2 linked regions of the Homo sapiens genome follow. The protein of the gene in region 2 purifies or fractionates together with the protein of the main gene of each other region. This does not show direct contact. Each region holds a gene or a part of one and is shown on either strand. Other genes may lie near its edges.

Region 1 (3,500 bases), on a different chromosome or scaffold from region 2:
TATCTGAAGGGTAATGAGGAGTAGATTTCTTCAGGGGATTTTCTTGAATCTGGTTTTATTTTACATTTTATCAATGATCAGGTTTAGAGAGTTTGATCATATTTGTAAATAAGGCCTGTCTTGGAAGGAGGGGAAGGAAGAAAACAGAATTTTAAAATTAATCTGCATAAACTGGTAAGTGGCATGAAACCACAGCATAAAGCAAAGCAGATATTGTTGCACAAGTTTACTTTGGTCAGAACAATTGGGTCGGTAGTGTTATAAAGAGTGATATAGGAAATCTGTAAACTTTTTGCTGTAAACATTACATTTGGCTTAGGCCAAGCATGGTGGCTCACGCCTGTAATCGCAGCACTTTGGGAGGCCGAGGCGGGCAGATCACTTGAGGTCAGGAGTTCGAGACTAGCCTGGCCAACATGGTGAAACCCTGTCTCTACTAAAAATATAAAATTAGCTGGGTGTGTGGCGGTTGCCTATAATCCCAGCTACTAGGGAGGCTGAGGCAGGATAATTGCTTGAACCTGGGAGCTGGAGGTTGCAGTGAGCCGAGATTGTGCCACTATACTCCAGCCTGGGCAACAGAGGGAGAGACTCTGTCTCAAAAAAAAAAAAAAAAAAGCAAAAAAAAAAAGAGAAAATTATCTAGGTATGGTGGCACATACCCGCAGTCCCAGCTACTTGGGAGGCTGAAGCAGGAGGATCACTTGAGCTCAAGAGTTTGAGGCTGCAATAAGCTAGAATGCCGCCACTACACTCTGGCCTGGGTGACTGAGACCCTGTTGTTAAAAAAAATAAATAAAAATAAATTTGTTTTAAAAAATTGTATTAAAAAACATAACAGTTTATCATCTTACCTATTAAGTGTGTAGTTAATTAATGTTAACTACATTCGCATTGTTCTGTGTCCAGCCATTTTTTATATGGAACATCTACAACCTACAAATCCATTGAAGCTTTAAGAGTATATACTTTCGGCCTTGCACAGTGTCTCATGCCTGTAATCCCAGCACTTTGGGAGGCGGAGGCGGGCGGATCACCTGAGGTCAGGAGTTTAAGACCAGCCTGGCCAGCATGGTGAAACCCCGTCTCTACTAAAAATACAAAAAATTAGCTGGGTGCAGTGGCATGCACCTGTAATCGCAGCTACTTGGGAGGCTGAGGTAGGAGAATCGCTTGAACCTGGGAGGCGGAGGTTGTGGTGAGCTAAGATCACACCATTGCACTCCAGCCTGGGCGACACAGCGAGACTCAGTCTCACAGGAAAAAAAAAAAAAAAAAAAAAGTATATGCTTTTTTTTCTTTCTTTCTTTTTTGTTAAGAGTATATAGTTTGGCTAAAAGTGGTGGCTCTCATCTGTAATCCTACCACTTTGGGAGGCTGAGGTGGTAGGATCACTTGAGCCCAGGAGTTTGAGACCAGCCTGGGCAACCTAGCAAGACATTGTCTCTACTAAAAATAAAAATAGTTAGCCAGGCGTGGTGGCACATGCCTCTGGTCTCAGCTGCTAGGAAGGCCGAGGCAGGAGGATTGCTTGAGCCTGGGAGGTCAAGGATGCACTGAACCGTGAGTATGCCACCATTCTAGCATGGGCAATAGAACAAGACCTTGCCTCAAAAAACCCCCAGTATATACTTTTTTCCCCTCTTCCCCACTATGAAATAAACTTATATAATATTTACTACAGAAGGCTAGAAAAATATGTAGAAAAAAATGGGGGCTGGTCTGAGTGTCTCACGCCTATAATCCCAGCACTTTGGGAGGCCAAGGTGGGCAGAACACTTGAGGTCAGTAGTTCGAGACCAGCCTGGCCAACATGGTGAAACCCTGTCTCTACTAAAAAGACAAAAATTAGCTGGGCATGGTGTCGCACATCTGTAATCCCAGCTACTTAAGAGGCTGAGGCAAGAGAATCGCTTGAACCTGGGAGGCAGAAGTTGCAGTGAGCCAAGATTGCACCACTGTACTCCAGCTTGGGCAACAGAGTGAGACAATGTCTCAAAAACAAAAAGCAAAAAATACAAATAAAAATAAGAGAAAAAAGCTAGGTGTGGTGGTGTGCACCTGTAGTCCCAGCTACTGGGGAGGATGAGGTGGGAAGATTGCTTGAACCTAGGAGCTTAAGGCTGCAGTGAGCTATGATGACACCACTGTGCTCCAGCCTGGGTGCCAGAGTGAGACCCTGTCTCTAAAAAAAAGAAAAAAAAAGGAAAGAAAAATATGTAGAAAAATGGTAAACTAGCCACTCCAATTTACCAGATAGATACAACCATTATTAATATTGAGACAGTTTTTTTTTTTTTTTTTTTAATAGAGATGAAGTTTCACTATGTTGTCTAGGCGGTCTCAAACTCTTGGGCTCATGTACTCCTCCCACCTTGGCAACCCAAAGTGCTGGGATTACAGGTGTGAGCCACCATGTCTGGTTCCTTCTGAGTCTTAAACTGTAATGCCTCTTATCTAAAATATGACCCATCCAAGATCTGATTTCTATCTTGGTTTCCCAGTTTCCTCCCAATAAGTGCATCATTTCTGGTTGGAAACAGTATAGCAAAAGAGTGATTGAAATACAATTTTTTTTTTTTTTGAGACAGAGTCTCACTCTGTTGCCCAGGCCGGAGTGCAGTGGCATGATCTCAGCTTGCTGCAGCCTCCGTCTCCTGGGTTCAAGCAGTTCTCCTGCCTCGGCCTCCCGAGTAGCTGGGACTACAGGCATGCGCCACCATGCTGGCTAATTTTTGTATTTTTAGTAGAGACGGGGTATCACCATGTTGGCCAGGTTGGTCTCGAACTCTTGACCTCATGATCCACCCACCTCAGCCTCCTGAAGATGCCCTCTGGTCACCTTCAGTGAACACTCTCACCTACACTTTTACTAACCATCTTTTAGGGTGGGTTGTTTCTACAGATGCTGGAGCCTATTTATTTTGTGCTGATGTTTTGCTACTGTTACCCGATATAAACTAAATTCAGCTAGGCCATAGAAACTACATAGTAACAGCCGGGCGGGTGGCTCACGCCTGTAATCCCAGCACTTTGGGAGGCTGAGGTGGGTGGATTGCCTGAGGTCAGGAGTTCAAGACCAGCCTGGCCAATATGGTGAAACCCCGTCTCTACTAAAAATACAAAAATTAGCCAGGCGTGGTGGCAGACGCCTGTAATCCCAGCTACTTGGGAGGCTGGGGCAGGAGAATCGCTTGAACCTGGGAGGTGGAGGTTGCAGTAAGCCGAGATCGCACCACTGCACTCCAGCCTGGGCGACCAGAGTGAGACTCTGTCTCAAAAAAAAAAAAAAAAAAAAGAAAAAAGAAACTACATAGTACTTTAAACAGAGAACATTTAATAGGTTATAAACTATAACTGGGGATTCGAGTAACAAGGAATTGGCTAGTAAGAAGTAAAGAGATCTCTAAGAAATATAGAAATAGATACAGGAATCAGCTGAGTTAGAATGTACAAGGAAGAGGGTCCCTAGGGCAGAGTTCCAGACCTTGCTGGAGATG
Region 2 (3,500 bases):
AAAAAAAAAATCAGGATAAACCGTTAACACCATATGTGGAGGAGCAAGGGATACGACCAGTGACCAGGACCAACCAGGCCAGGGTGCAGGCGTCTGTGAAGAGGCCATCTCCACGCTGGAGACACCTGCCTCCCGGAGGGGACTGAGGCCTTACCCCCTCCTCAGCAACACCTGAGCCAGAACCTGCTCTATTCCCTTTTTGGAGCTGAGGAAACTGAAGCACACAGACACCCGGCTGGGCCCCATACTCCACTGCTGCTCCTTCGGACACGCTGGCCTCAGGATGTGTCCCAGCTTGCGGCGTCTCACACCTCTGTCCCAGTCATCTGAGGACCCCCACGGGCACCCACCTGCGAGGTGAGGAAGCGCTTGAGTGCATTCCCTGGCTGCAGGTCCATGCCTCGCACCACGGCCCCCACAATGTAGGGCCGCACATCCCGGACCTCGGGGCTCACTCTGACTGTCAGAGGTACGGGGTTTTCAGAGACGTGCAGGACCCTGAGCAGCAGCCGGCCGGCATCTCCCACGTCCTGCTCCTCCCCATCACCACCTTCCCGCCTCTGCTTCCTCTCCCTCCTCTTCCTCCGGCTCTCTTCCTTCTCCGAGCCCTCGGCACGGCCCTTGCCCTTCCCGCCACCACGGCCTCCGACGCGCAGGTACTCCAGGATGGATCTGGTCTGGCAGCCGCTGACCATCTTCTCCAGGCGCTTGTCCCTCAGCTTGTTCCCACGGAAATTGATCTCCTTGAGCTTGGGGCAGTCCGCAAGCTCTGCAGGGATCTCGCTCAGCTGGTTGTTCGAGAGGTCCAACGTCTGCAAAGAGAAACATGGACGCGTCAGACGCCCGGACTCTGGGAAGAGAGTCCAAGGTCATGCTCGAGAGGCAGGGAGACCACTCATCACTCACAAGAGCCACCACTGGCCTGTCTGTGGGGACGCGTCCCTGGGGAGCCACAAGTCATTCACCTTTGAGTCACTTCCCCAGCTCTGCACCCCACATCAAAGGCACTATCCGAGGAGCCTCTCCGAGGAGAAGGCGTCAGCCACGGTTAACAGTGATCTCTGCAAAAGCTTCTGACTCAAACATGTCACCCTCTTTAACAACCACAGCAGCCCTGCAGCTCAATCATCACGTTAGAGAACAGAAAGGTGACAAGAGACAGGGGATGTCTGGGTGTGAAACGTGACCTCATGTCGGGACCTAGCCAGGACTGCTCAGGTGAGAAGCAGGTTCCCCAAAGTGGTGTTATTTTTTTTAATTAAATGAGCTAAAAAAAAAATACAGCAAAATCTCTAAGAGCATTCTTCTTCATAATGAAGTGCAAAGTTGCCCGCAGTGACACACAGAGTGCTCTCAGGGTTCACGCAGGAAGGAAAGGGGAAAGCCGACTTCAACGGCGATGGGTTCTCAGCCTTCGTCTGACCCAGGACAGGTGCATCGGGCCCACCACCGTGTGCCACAAAGATGCCCAGGAAGCCCCGTGGCCCACGGGAAAGCGTTTTCTATGACCGTGACTGATCAGACTTTGGCAAAACGTGCAGGTGACCTCACTGAAAGGATGGAAGGGGTACAGTGGCACCTGATGCACTCTTAGGATGTCTTTCCCAGGGTCTGGGCAGCGCAGGGAACGTGCGTGTGAGGGCAGCCACTTCCATGACGTGAGGCGGCCGCTGCAGGTTCAGGCAAAAGGGGCCCATCCGCCTCCACTCTGCTCTTTCCTGGCTTGGTACCCAGGCCCCACAGCCTTGCCTGGGTGGTGGGGCAGGCACTGCGAGCAAACCCTTCTGTCCCAGCTTCCTCTAGGGCTGGAGGAAGACCCTGCTCAGGATGCAAAGCCTGACCCTCGGGGATCTCTGGCAGCCTCGGTGCCGGCTCTGCCCCCAGAGAGGAGGCAACAGCATGTGGGCCCCCTGGAAGCCAGCACTCGCCCTTGGTCAGTGTGGCTGGTGAGTCCTAGTTACACTGGGTGTGGAGGAGACAGGTAGGGCTGGACTTGATAGACTCTGAACAGAGTTGGGGATGGGCTGATTACTCAGAGGACACCTCCTGCTTCGCCTGGAATGGATGGCAGGGGTGATGGAATTTCTCAAGCCCCAAGTTGTGAAGGAAATGAAAAAAGGAACCTGCTGGAATCCTCCGGCTCAAGCAATCAAGCTGCTCAGACACGGGTAAGGGCAGCATGGCTCAGAAATGGGATGGCGCTCAGAAGCGGGAAGGGTGGCACGGCTCAGACATGGGAGGGTGCACTGGATGAGTTCCCTCAGGGAGAACAGAGACCCAGGGAGGAAGCGACAACTTAACAGTCAAGCAGGAACAGCATGTGTAAAAGAAATAAAAGGGCTCGCGTGCCCTCTGGGAGAGAATGGGGCAGTCTAAGCAGCAGTGACGCCTGCTGGGGAAGAACACAAGGCAGGGGCTGAGACCAAGCCCAGCTGCTGGGCACTACCTGAGCCACGCGTCCATCGGATCTAACAGAACTGCCACAATTCTGTGCTTCTCAGCACAGGGTGGGCTGGGCTGGGATAGACTTGTTGGACTGGTGGCTCCAGCCCAGACCTCCCTTCCGGCCCCACATGGGACGAGAGCCAATCTACTCCTGGAATCCAGGTGGCCTCACAAAGTACCAGGAGCCGTATCACCAATGCTGTCGCCAGCCTGCAGCACCAGGAACAGTGCGGCCGTGAGCTCAGCCTTCTAGAGCTCCTCACCTCCCTGTCAGAGCCCTGGCTCCAGCGTTAGAACCAGCCTGGGCCACCAGCCCAGGGCACAGCCTGCCTGGCAGAGGCCAAGGGAAGCTCTGAGGTTGGAAGCTCGGGGGCACAGGCATCTGAGGTTCTGCTCTGTGGGTTTCTGCGCTGCCCTAAGGGGCTTTGGTCAAAAAGCTTGAGAGTTCCCCTCAAGTGGAACCTCCTTTCTGCCTGCAAACACGCAGTGCGGCGTCTCCCTCCGCTGACAAAGAGCAAGTTCCTTCAGACCCAGGAGCAGCAGCAGAGGCGAAGGAGGCGGGCGGGGCCCCACCGGGGCGCCCAGAGCAGCCACAGCCAGTTCAGCCTGCAGCCTGCAGTGAGTCCCCGAAAGGATGATGGCGGGCACTCGGAGAAGGGTCTTCCTTCCAGGCAAAGACTGTCAGAGAAAGGGCATCTGAGCAGCTCAGGACCTGCCTGGAGGCTCTGTGGGGAGTCAGGGGACAGGAAGGGAAGCGGGGGAAGGAGAGCAAGAGGGAGGGCAAGAGAGTCACCATCTGGGTGGGGCGCAAAGCCGCACATGTTGGGGAGTCCTTGTCAGAAATGCAAGGCCCTGCTGACGAGGTCGCACGCTGGCCCCTCAGGCCAGCACTGGGCACCCAGTGGCGGCCTCAGCAGGAAATGAAGCCAGAGATTTCACACATGAAGGGTGGATGAGGGTGGCGTCAGTTTTCACTTGTGTGAGGGAGCAAGCAGGCGCGCCCGCAAGGATGTGAGGTGCACACTGGCTTTGGGGAGGATGAGTTACACAGGGGG

What was found. Proteins that work in one complex are often made in the same cells at the same time.
Region 1: the proteins of LRRC47 (region 2) and ARHGAP19 fractionate together in Homo sapiens (co-fractionation; one large-scale study listed by BioGRID). This does not show direct contact.

The regions. Positions count from the first base shown.
Region 1 is NC_000010.11:97,282,638-97,286,137, reverse strand, and holds part of ARHGAP19 (rho GTPase-activating protein 19), read left to right. Parts: intron 1-3,500. UniProt on the Homo sapiens protein: GTPase activator for the Rho-type GTPases by converting them to an inactive GDP-bound state.
Region 2 is NC_000001.11:3,786,499-3,789,998, forward strand, and holds part of LRRC47 (leucine-rich repeat-containing protein 47), read right to left. Parts: intron 813-3,500; coding exon 351-812; intron 1-350.